Linked DNA regions of Homo sapiens: all the other regions are linked to region 4. The links come from fine-mapping of genetic effects on gene expression. A gene starts in region 4. Each other region holds a variant in brackets. All regions are shown on one strand. Distances are between the middles of the regions. Region 1 has its middle 150 kb from the start of MYRFL. Region 2 overlaps MYRFL (myelin regulatory factor like). Region 3 overlaps MYRFL (myelin regulatory factor like). Region 4 holds the start of MYRFL (myelin regulatory factor like).

The links. PIP is the estimated chance that this variant, and not a neighbour inherited with it, causes the effect.
Region 1: its variant is fine-mapped to the expression of MYRFL in tibial artery (GTEx, PIP above 0.99).
Region 2: its variant is fine-mapped to the expression of MYRFL in aorta (GTEx, PIP 0.97).
Region 3: its variant is fine-mapped to the expression of MYRFL in unexposed skin (GTEx, PIP above 0.99). The same link has a PIP of 0.9 or more in sun-exposed skin.

Annotation. Positions count from the first base shown.
Region 1 is chr12:69,971,163-69,973,778 of GRCh38, reverse strand. No RefSeq gene overlaps it. Among named protein-coding and RNA genes, the nearest start is that of MYRFL, 150 kb to the right of the region's middle. The variant A/T (reference allele first, on the strand shown) is at 986.
Region 2 is chr12:69,940,582-69,943,197 of GRCh38, reverse strand. The region is part of intron 19 of MYRFL (myelin regulatory factor like); the gene reads right to left. Among named protein-coding and RNA genes, the nearest start is that of MYRFL, 120 kb to the right of the region's middle. The variant T/A (reference allele first, on the strand shown) is at 1,363.
Region 3 is chr12:69,935,708-69,938,323 of GRCh38, reverse strand. It overlaps MYRFL (myelin regulatory factor like), which reads right to left. Exons shown (of 25, transcript NM_182530.3): 17 at 2,137-2,211; 18 at 1,989-2,041; 19 at 1,692-1,871. Among named protein-coding and RNA genes, the nearest start is that of MYRFL, 110 kb to the right of the region's middle. The variant T/C (reference allele first, on the strand shown) is at 1,632.
Region 4 is chr12:69,824,147-69,826,747 of GRCh38, reverse strand. It overlaps MYRFL (myelin regulatory factor like), which reads right to left and starts at 1,521. Exons shown (of 25, transcript NM_182530.3): 1 at 1,185-1,521. The coding sequence starts at 1,230.

The DNA of each region.
Region 1 (2,616 bases), 150 kb before region 4:
GAGTTAAAGGCAATGCTGCCCTTGGAACTGTTGGAAATACCAAAGAACAATTGCAGATCAAGAGCAGCAGTGAGTGTGGAGACATACACTCACACTTACCATAATAGAATAGAAACTAGAGGGTTTGTGTTCACTTATCAGCTCCACTACTTCCCAACTTATAACATTTGCCTACTCACCAACTAGTAAATATCTGCTACATAGTGAAAGCTCCAAAACTGTTGGTTAATGAATGTTGAAATCACTTAAGCTTTTTGGGCTTCTCTGGCTCCATATTAAAAATAAGGAGATTGGCCAGGTGCAGTGGCTCATGCCTGCAATCCCAGCACTTTGGAAGGCCGAGGTGGGTGGATCACTGGAGCTCAGGAGTTTGAGACCAGTCTGGGCAACTCAGCGAAGCCCCGTCTCTACCAAAATTACAAAAATGAGCCAGCACACACCTGTGGTCCCAGCTACTAAGGAGGCTGAGATGGGAGAATCGCTGGAGCCTGGGAAGTCAAGGCTGCAGTGAGCCAAGGTCCCACCACTGCACTCTAGCCTGGGTGACAGAGTGAGATCCTCTCTCAAAAAATAAAAATAAGGAGATTGGACTATCCAATTGGTAATAAGGATAGGCACTGATACTTATTGAACACTTAATATATGTGGGGGACTGTTGTGAATTAATGAAATGTATTGTCACAAAAAACATGTTATCTCCTTTTAACATACAAGGAAATCAAAGCACAGAGAGGTTGGGTAACTAGCCCCACATCACACATTTGGTCAGGCAGAACCAGGATTCAAAACTCCAGAATCCATGTGTTTTCCCAGTATGTTTTTGTCAACTTCCAGCTTATGCTATTATAATGATTCCCACTTTGTTACCTGCTCATTATCAATAAGATGTTTAATCTCTTACTCTGACTCTATATATACTGCCTGTATTACTTCCCAGAGATTAGTCCTCTGTGTATCCATCAATACTTGAGCCTTCAAACATCGA[A/T]GAAAAGCTTGTATTTATAATTCAAATAAGAGAAACTAGACATTTTATATCTACTTGTGGATAGTATAAAGTGGAGAGGGATAGCAAGAATGTTGGATGACAATCACCACCTAAACATACTGACAAGCAACATAAAAGAACCCATCTAACAAGATATGGGGAATGGGAAAAAATGCAGTGGTGTGCTGATGAAGAAGCTCTCTGAAAACAAAAACCCTGATTTGGAGCATCTTCCTGAGAAGCGTTATGGGCCAAGATGTACGCAGAGGAGGCACAGTTGTGTGGGAGAAAAATCACAGGACGCGGATTCAGATGTCTGAGAGTAAGTCGTACCTGCTGTGCAACCCGAAGCAAGTCTGTTTACCTCATGGAACCTGCCTCTACTGCTGGAAGTGGGGATGTGTCAGGTACCTCACAGGCTTGTCATGAGGACTGAGTGAGATGACATAGGAAAACACTTGCCAAACTTGAAAGTCTTGCTCCTCAGGGTGTGTCTCATGCCAGCAGCATCAACAGCATCCAGGACTTTGTTGGAAAGGCACGTTCTCAGGCCCCACCCCAGACCCACTGAAATAGAGTCTGCATTTCCACAAGATCACCAGGTGATTGTGTGCACATTAACGTTTGAGAAGCCCTATTCTAAAGAACCAAACAAATGTAGTGTGTTGAAATTTTGGACTTTTTTCATATTCTGCCAAGGAAATACATCATGGCCAAATTTAAAGAAATGGGCCCCCAGCACTTTGGGAGGCCGAGGCGGGTGGATCACGAGGTCAGGAGATCGAGACCATCCTGGCTAACACGGTGAAACCCCGTCTCTACTAAAAATACAAAAAATTAGCTGGGCAAGGTGGTGGGCACCTGTAGTCCCAGCTACGTGGGAGGCTGAGGTAAGAGAATGGTGTGAACCCGGGAGGTGGAGCTTGCAGTGAGCCGAGATCGCACCACTGCACTCCAGCCTGGGCAACAGAGTGGGACTCCGTCTCAAAAAAAAAAAAGAAAAGAAAAGAAAAGAAAGAAATGGGCCCCTCTCAGAGTTTTCCATAATCCTCCTTCCCTGGGTCCTGATGAGCTCCCTAGGTTTTGGGGAGCAGATGCCCATCATGTGGCCAAGTGGGTTATTCCTGGAGAGCAGTTCCCTTTGCTCAGGAATGGACCACTTGAGAAAGTCATTGCCTAATAAAATCCCTTATTGTTTTCAAGGGAAGACAACCAATAAAATGCAAGCCTACTGATATGGTATGGCTGTGTCTCATCATGAATTGCAGTTTCCATAATCCCCACGGGTGGTGAGAGGGACTGGTGGGGGCTAATTGAATCATGGGGGTGGTTACCCTCATGCTGTTCTCGGGATAGTGCGTGAGTTCTTATGAGATCTGATAGTTTTTATAAAGGGCTTTTCCCCCTTTGCTCCGCACTTCTCTCTCTTGCCACCTTGTGAAAAAGGACATCTTGGCTTCCCCTTCTGCCATGATTGTAAGTTTCCTGAGGCCTCCCCAGCCATGCGCAACTGTGAGTCAATTGAACCTCTTTCCTTTATAAATTACCCAGTCTCGGGTATGTCCTTATAGCAGCATGAGAATGAACGATTAACACATCTACATATACAAAACTGTCTCAACCCCGGGAAA
Region 2 (2,616 bases), 120 kb before region 4:
CATATGAACTTTAAAGTAGTTTTTTCCAATTCTGTGAAGAAAGGCATTGGTAGCTTGATGGGGATGGCATTGAATCTGTAAATTACCCTGGGCAGTATGGCCATTTTCATGATATTGATTCTTCCTATCCATGAGCATGGAATGTTCTTCCATTTGTTTGTATACTCTTTTATTTCCTTGAGCAGCGGTTTGTAGTTCTTCTTGAAGAGGTCCTTCACATCCCTTGTAAGTTGGATTCCTAGGTATTTTATTCTCTTTGAAGCAATTGTGAATGGGAGTTCACTCATGATTTGGCTGTTTGTCTGTTGTTGGTGTATAGGAATACTTGTGATTTTTGCACATTGATTTTGTAGCCTGAGACTTTGCTGAAGTTGCTTATCAGCTTAAGGAGATTTTGGGCTGAGACAATGGGGTTTTCTAGATATACAATCATGTCATCTGCAAACAGGGACAATTTGACTTCCTCTTTTCCTATTTGAATACCCTTTATTTCCTTCTCCTGCCTAATTGCCCTGGCCAGAACTTCCAACACTATGTTGAATAGGACTGGTGAGAGAGGGCATCCCTGTCTTGTGCCAGTTTTCAAAGGGAATGCTTCCAGTTTTTGCCCATTCAGTATGATATTGGCTGCGGGTTTGTCATAGATAGCTCTTATTATTTTGAAATATGTCCCATCAATACCTAATTTATTGAGAGTTTTTAGCATGAAAAGTTGTTGAATTTTGTCAAAGGCCTTTTCTGCATCTATTGAGATAATCATGTGGTTTTTGTCTTTGGCTCTGTTTATATGCTGGATTACATTTATTGATTTGCATATATTGAACCAGCCTTGCATCCCAGGGATGAAGCCCACTTGATCATGGTGGATAAGCTTTTTGATGTGCTGCTGGATTCGGTTTGCCAGTATTTTATTGAGGATTTTTGCATCAGTGTTCATCAAGGATATTGGTCTAAAATTCTCTTTTTTGGTTGTGTCTCTGCCCGGCTTTGGTATCAGAATGATGCTGGCCTCATAAAATGAGTTAGGGAGGATTCCCTCTTTTTCTATTGATTGGAATAGTTTCAGAAGGAATGGTACCAGTTCCTCCTTGTACCTCTGGTAGAATTCGGCTGTGAATCCATCTGGTCCTGGACTCTTTTTGGTTGGTAAGCTATTGATTATTGCCACAATTTCAGATCCTGTTATTGGTCTATTCAGAGATTCAGCTTCTTCCTGGTTTAGTCTTGGGAGAGTGTATGTGTCCAGGAATTTATCCATTTCTTCTAGATTTTCTAGTTTATTTGCGTAGAGGTGTTTGTAGTATTCTCTGATGGTAGTTTGTATTTCTGTGGGATCGGTGGTGATATCCCCTTTATCATTTT[T/A]TATTGCATCTATTTGATTCTTCTGTCTTTTTTTCTTTATTAGTCTTGCTAGCGGTCTATCAATTTTGTTGATCCTTTCAAAAAACCAGCTCCTGGATTCATTAATTTTTTGAAGGGTTTTTTGTGTCTCTATTTCCTTCAGTTCTGCTCTGATTTCAGTTATTTCTTGCCTTCTGCTAGCTTTTGAATGTGTTTGCTCTTGCTTTTCTAGTTCTTTTAATTGTGATGTTAGGGTGTCAATTTTGGATCTTTCCTGCTTTCTCTTGTGGGCATTTAGTGCTATAAATTTCCCTCTACACACTGCTTTGAATGCGTCCCAGAGATTCTGGTATGTTGTGTCTTTGTTCTCGTTGGTTTCAAAGAACATCTTTATTTCTGCCTTCATTTCGTTATGTACCCAGTAGTCATTCAGGAGCAGGTTGTTCAGTTTCCATGTAGTTGAGCGGTTTTGAGTGAGATTCTTAATCCTGAGTTCTAGTTTGATTGCACTGTGGTCTGAGAGATAGTTTGTTATAATTTGTGTTCTTTTACATTTGCTGAGGAGAGCTTTACTTCCAACTATGTGGTCAATTTTGGAATAGGTGTGGTGTGGTGCTGAAAAAAATGTATATTCTGTTGATTTGGGGTGGAGAGTTCTGTAGATGTCTATGAGGTCCGCTTGGTGCAGAGCTGAGTTCAATTCCTGGGTATCCTTGTTGACTTTCTGTCTCATTGATCTGTCTAATGTTGACAGTGGGGTGTTAAAGTCTCCCATTATTAATATGTGGGAGTCTAAGTCTCTTTGTAGGTCACTCAGGACTTGCTTTATGAATCTGGGTGCTCCTGTATTGGGTGCATATATATTTAGGATAGTTAGCTCTTCTTGTTGAATTGATCCCTTTACCATTATGTAATGGCCTTCTTTGTCTCTTTTGATCTTTGTTGGTTTAAAGTCTGTTTTATCAGAGACTAGGATTGCAACCCCTGCCTTTTTTTGTTTTCCATTTGCTTGGTAGATCTTCCTCCATCCTTTTATTTTGAGCCTATGTGTGTCTCTGCACATGAGATGGGTTTCCTGAATACAGCACACTGATGGGTCTTGACTCTTTATCCAATTTGCCAGTCTGTGTCTTTTAATTGGAGCATTTAGTCCATTTACATTTAAAGTTAATAGTGTTATGTATGAATTTGATCCTGTCATTATGATGTTAGCTGGTTATTTTGCTCGTTAGTTGATGCAGTTTCTTCCTAGCCTCGATGATTTTGCAGTGGCTG
Region 3 (2,616 bases), 110 kb before region 4:
TTCTGAGGACTGCTTTGAGAAAAGAACATCAAGTGTCTCCAGCATGGGCTCCCAAAGTAAGAAAAGTGTTTACCAGCCACAAGGTTCCATGTGCTTTCACAAGGGATAAAAGCCTTGGGGATTTCTGTGATAGTTCTAGATTTTTTCATATTTAAAAATATTGAGAATAAGATGACTGAAATGAATTCCTTTCTTTAAAATGAAGTTTTTAGTTCTACTCCATAGTGATGCATCTGCTCCTAAGTTCAATCAAAAATAGTTTTCATGAGAAAAGCTCATTGTCTCCTATTGCTGTAGTGAAAGAACTCTCTGTGTCTCAGCTTCCCCACTGGAAAAAAAAATTGGGATAATAAAAGCACCTCGTTTGTAGGCTTGTGAAGATTAAATGATTTACTCATGTAAACTACTTATGACAGTACCTAGCGTAGAGTAATACCTCATTACAACATGATAATCATGATGATGATGACAATTTGTAAAAGTTATTTAACCAAGACTAGGATATGCAATAATGTCAAAAGGGAAAGGAAATTACATTGCACCCCAACATTTCAACCACTGACCATATTCTATGTAGGTCATGAGCACCACTTATAAGTATTCTGGTTCATCTTCTCCATACATGTTAGATCTGTTCTTCCCCATCCGTTTAAAAATTAGACATGACCAATGTGACGTGACTTGCTTTGGCCAATGAAGTATAAGCAGAGGTGATATGTGTTATACATAGGTGGAAGCTTTAAGAGTCGGAACATAATTTGCCTTGTTCTTTTACCACTACTACGGAGACTGTGGAAATAATTATTGTGATGGAATCTTCATCAGCTGGACTTTAAATGACATGATGACCAAGAACTGTCTTTTGATTCACATTTAATATATAGAGTGACTCAGAATTAAATTGTTGCCATAAAGAAGCCACTGTTATTTAAGAGTTGTTGTTATGACAGTATCCTAATCAATAAGCCATAGTAATATGTATCCTTATTAGCATCATCATTAATATTACTATTTATTAATATGTATATATAGAATAAAATTTCTAAAAACAATAATAAATTAGTATACATTTGGAAGACTTGTATGTAATCTTATGGATATGATTACACTTGCAGCCCTTGATTAAGTTTCTATACTTTTTTTTACCATGAAAATTGTGTTACTTGAATAACATTGGTATGTATGTATGTGTGTGTGTGTCCCTAGGAGGAAGAGGAAAGTTATTCTGAAAGTGGAATGCCAGTCTTGTGTTTTTCACTGCCTTAAATCTCACCCTGAACTCTAAATTAGAGTTTCCAAAGTCTCTTACATTTTGCCCTAGTCAGTTTAGGCAGAGAGCCCAGATACCACATCATTTTTTAAACTCTAAATGAGCCCAAAAAATCCACCCACGTGCATGTAATTACTTCGCTTGTGCTACTATTACTATCCTTGTTGGCAATGGACAAATGAGAACCTTTCACTTGGTGAAAATTATAAGTACTTGAATCAACCAAAATTTCATTCCTGGGCAAGGAACTCAATATTACAGATGATTGGCAGTTGTGTATTTGTGTTTTAAAGATTTTGCCACCCCAAATAGAAGCATGGAACCATTATCTGGAACCATTAATGACCATCTAAGTAAATTG[T/C]GACAAGAAAAACAACCTCAAGTTCAAAGCTCTAGTTGTTTCTCTTTGAACATCATTTACCTGACCATCGCCTCTGATGGAATTCCTTCTCCTCAGATTGTCTTTGCACAGGACTTGAAGAGACTTCTTTCATTCCCCGGATGGGGCAGCAATAAGTCTCCTGACACGGCAGGATTTCACAGAAAGTAATTTCAGGTACTTGTAAGGAGGCCGGTGTGGTTACCAGGGATGTATTAGGTGCTGCAAGGCATTGGGCAGGGGGGAGGGGAAGCAAGAAGGTTAACCTGAAAGGCTGGTTTCTTCTGTTAACAGTTCACTTGAAACCGGGTTTGAGGGTGAGGAATGTGAAGCCTTTACCTGAGGAGGAGGCTGTGGGCAGCAGAGCTGGCTCCTGTGAGCTTGTGATATTGCTGGAGAAAAAGAATGAAATGATTAATGAAAGAGGGCTGCAAAAATCCTTCTCTCCAAAGGAATTTTAGGCCAGAAAATTGAACTGAACTCTCACCTTGGAGGGAGATTTGGGACACGTCGGTCTTGATCTTTTAAGCTAAGTATATAGAGGGCAACTATCGTCAAAGCACTGTCAAAAAAAAAAAAAAAAAAAAAAAAAAAAACATTATGTGGCAGATTTGTTTCCAGATATATCTCACACATCCAGCTGGCCAGAGATGTACTCTCACAGGCCACACAGATGGGAGCAGGGGGGAGGGGATGGCCACGGCTGACAGAAACACCATGGAAACCAGCACAGTTATGCTTTTCTGCCCTGGAGAGAAAAAGAGCTCAGAGGCTCCTAGGTATTCCATGCTGATGGATTTTTCCACATAGAGCAGCCCCCCAGCCCTGGCAAGCTGTCTCAGAGGTGCCTGTCACTAGTGGAAGATTACAAGAGGAAGCATGTAAGTTGCTGGAGGCAACTGCTCCTTGCAGGAAAGAGTCAGAGCACAGTTTGCGTGCCACCGGTGGAGGGCATTGGCACTGTCGC
Region 4 (2,601 bases):
TTCCAACTATTCACAGATAATGTAAGAAAAACACTGAAGACAAATACTTTTATAATAATGATCAGATAATTGTAACAAGCTGTAGAGGGGACTTGTAGAAACTATATCCATAGAAACCTCCAAAAATAGTATAAACAAGGACAGTATAGGGATCCCATAGAAATAAAAGCTCTTTCAAAAAACAGAAGGTAGACCAAATTCGATATTCAGGTCTTCCCTAGCTCTAGAAGGAAATGGAGTAGATTTTTGCATGTATACAATAAATTGCTGGTTTCTCTAAAATAGATGCAATGGTAGATTGAAGCTTGCCACCTGCTGCTCAAACGAAAATTATATATGATATAAAATCAGGCAATAACAGTCTAGCAACACTAGTGTGCCTACCATGTGCCAAGCATGACCCAGGTAGACAATACCAACTTGGCCACTGTCAGAGACAGAACACTCAATGGGATGGATGGTAGGACAAGATAATGTGATAATTCTCTTGGTCTTATGTTTCTTCTTGCCATTTCTGGAAAAACCCAAGCCACAGAAACTACCCCATGGTGTTGATTCCTCCCAATAGTGACATAGAATCTCACTATTTCTTTGGTACGCCCCGTCACTCTTTAGTGTTCAGCATTGTTTACTATTCAGCCCATTCCATTCAACTTTTAAATATATATTATTTGTCAGGCACTTTACAAAGCACAAGAAATACCTAAAGCACTTTTCTCGATGTGCTGCTGACTGATCCCTAGATTCTGTAAATGAGCAGGTCTTCCCTCACTTCTTCTCATACTCCCTCATGCAAAATACCTTACCGTGTAAAAATGATGGTCACGTTTCCCTTCACATGGAATTTGAGCATGGCTATGTAGTTTTTTTAAACATAGGGCATGGGAAAAAATAAAATCTAGTACAGGACAGGGACAAGTAATAACAACATAAATATGCTGACCCCTTGATTCTAACAACCAAACTATAAGATGAAAATCCTGTTTTGTTTAAAATCTCTATCCATACCATTGAATTTTGCTCCCAATGTAGCAAATAAACCCCTACTTTTGATATTAGGAGAGTTACCTAAGTATGATAGCATTTCTTTCAAAACAAAGTTTAAGTGAATACGGAAAAGGTGAAACAGGGATAGTGAGCATTTCTCAGAAGCAGCAAATTCATGCTGGAAATTGGCCTCTTACCTTCAAAGAACTGCTGCAGGGCCTCATTTTCGCCTACCACATCCATGGTACTGTGATCCTAGTACTATTTCCTCATAAAACAACGGTTATCAGACCTCAGGAAATAAGTACTGTCCTTTTGATTCGAAGCCTACGAATGCTCTTGAAAAATCTTCATTTTCTTTTTATTGGAGTGAAGCATATCTTCAGCCATCAAATTGTGCCCAGAAAGATGGTTGAGTTTTCAAATGTGATTATAAAACTGGAAGGATATACAACCATACATTTAAAAAAAATTCATGAAGAGGGAAGAGGTAGCAAATTCATCTGTCTTAATATAAGGAACTGTTTCTACTCTGCTTTTCGTCTTTAAGGACCTTTGTCCTTAGTGACACATGCAATTACATAAATGGGCAATAAATACATAGTCTTATCTCATATTTGTCCTTTTACACCAATATATTTATATCTCCACCTTTATCAACTAGATCCACTTAGCTACCACCAATAAAACATACTTATTTTTTTAACCTAGAAAAAAGGGATAAATCAATATAATTACTTTTATAGATACCTATCATCACAGGTAATTTTAAAAGGCTTGTGATAATGAAAAGTTAGAATTTGTTAAGTATTTCCAAACTTACAGCAAAAACTTAAATTCCTTAATACATACCTGTTCCATTTCCTCTAGAGCTTATTTGCTTCCAAAGCATAAACCATAAAGTATGAGAAGTCTCTCTAACAAGCAACGAAAACTGCATTACCAATTTAATAATTCTTACAGTTGAGTCACTAGTAACTTGATTCACTCCTAAATATAAAACCATACCCGAATAAATGTTTTGTTTTCACTGCTTAGCTATAATTCATTTAACAATAGCCTAAGAAAATACAATTAGGAAATTAAATTATCCTTTCGCCCCTTCCTTTTCTTTTTTCCCAACTATTTGGAAAAAAAATAGTATCATAAAATATCCATATACTCTTCATCTACACTTACCAATTATTGACACTCTCTCATATATATATATATATACACATACATATATATACATATATATATACATATATACATATATATATGAGACAGAGTGGTAGCAGTGGATATGGATATGTGTGTGGATATGGATATGTGTGTGGAAGGATATGGATATATATATATCCATATATAGTTTGTTTATATATATATCCATATAGTTTTTATATATATAGTTTATTTCTAATTTTTATGGATACACAATAGTTGTACATATTTATGGGGTACATATATTTTGATACAAACATACAATGTGTAATGATCAAATCAGGGTAATTGGGGTATCCATCACCTCAAACATTTATCATTTATCATTTATGTTGGGAACATTCCAAATCCACTCCTTTATTGTGAAATATAAATTATTGTTAACTGTATTTACCCTATTGTGCTACCAAA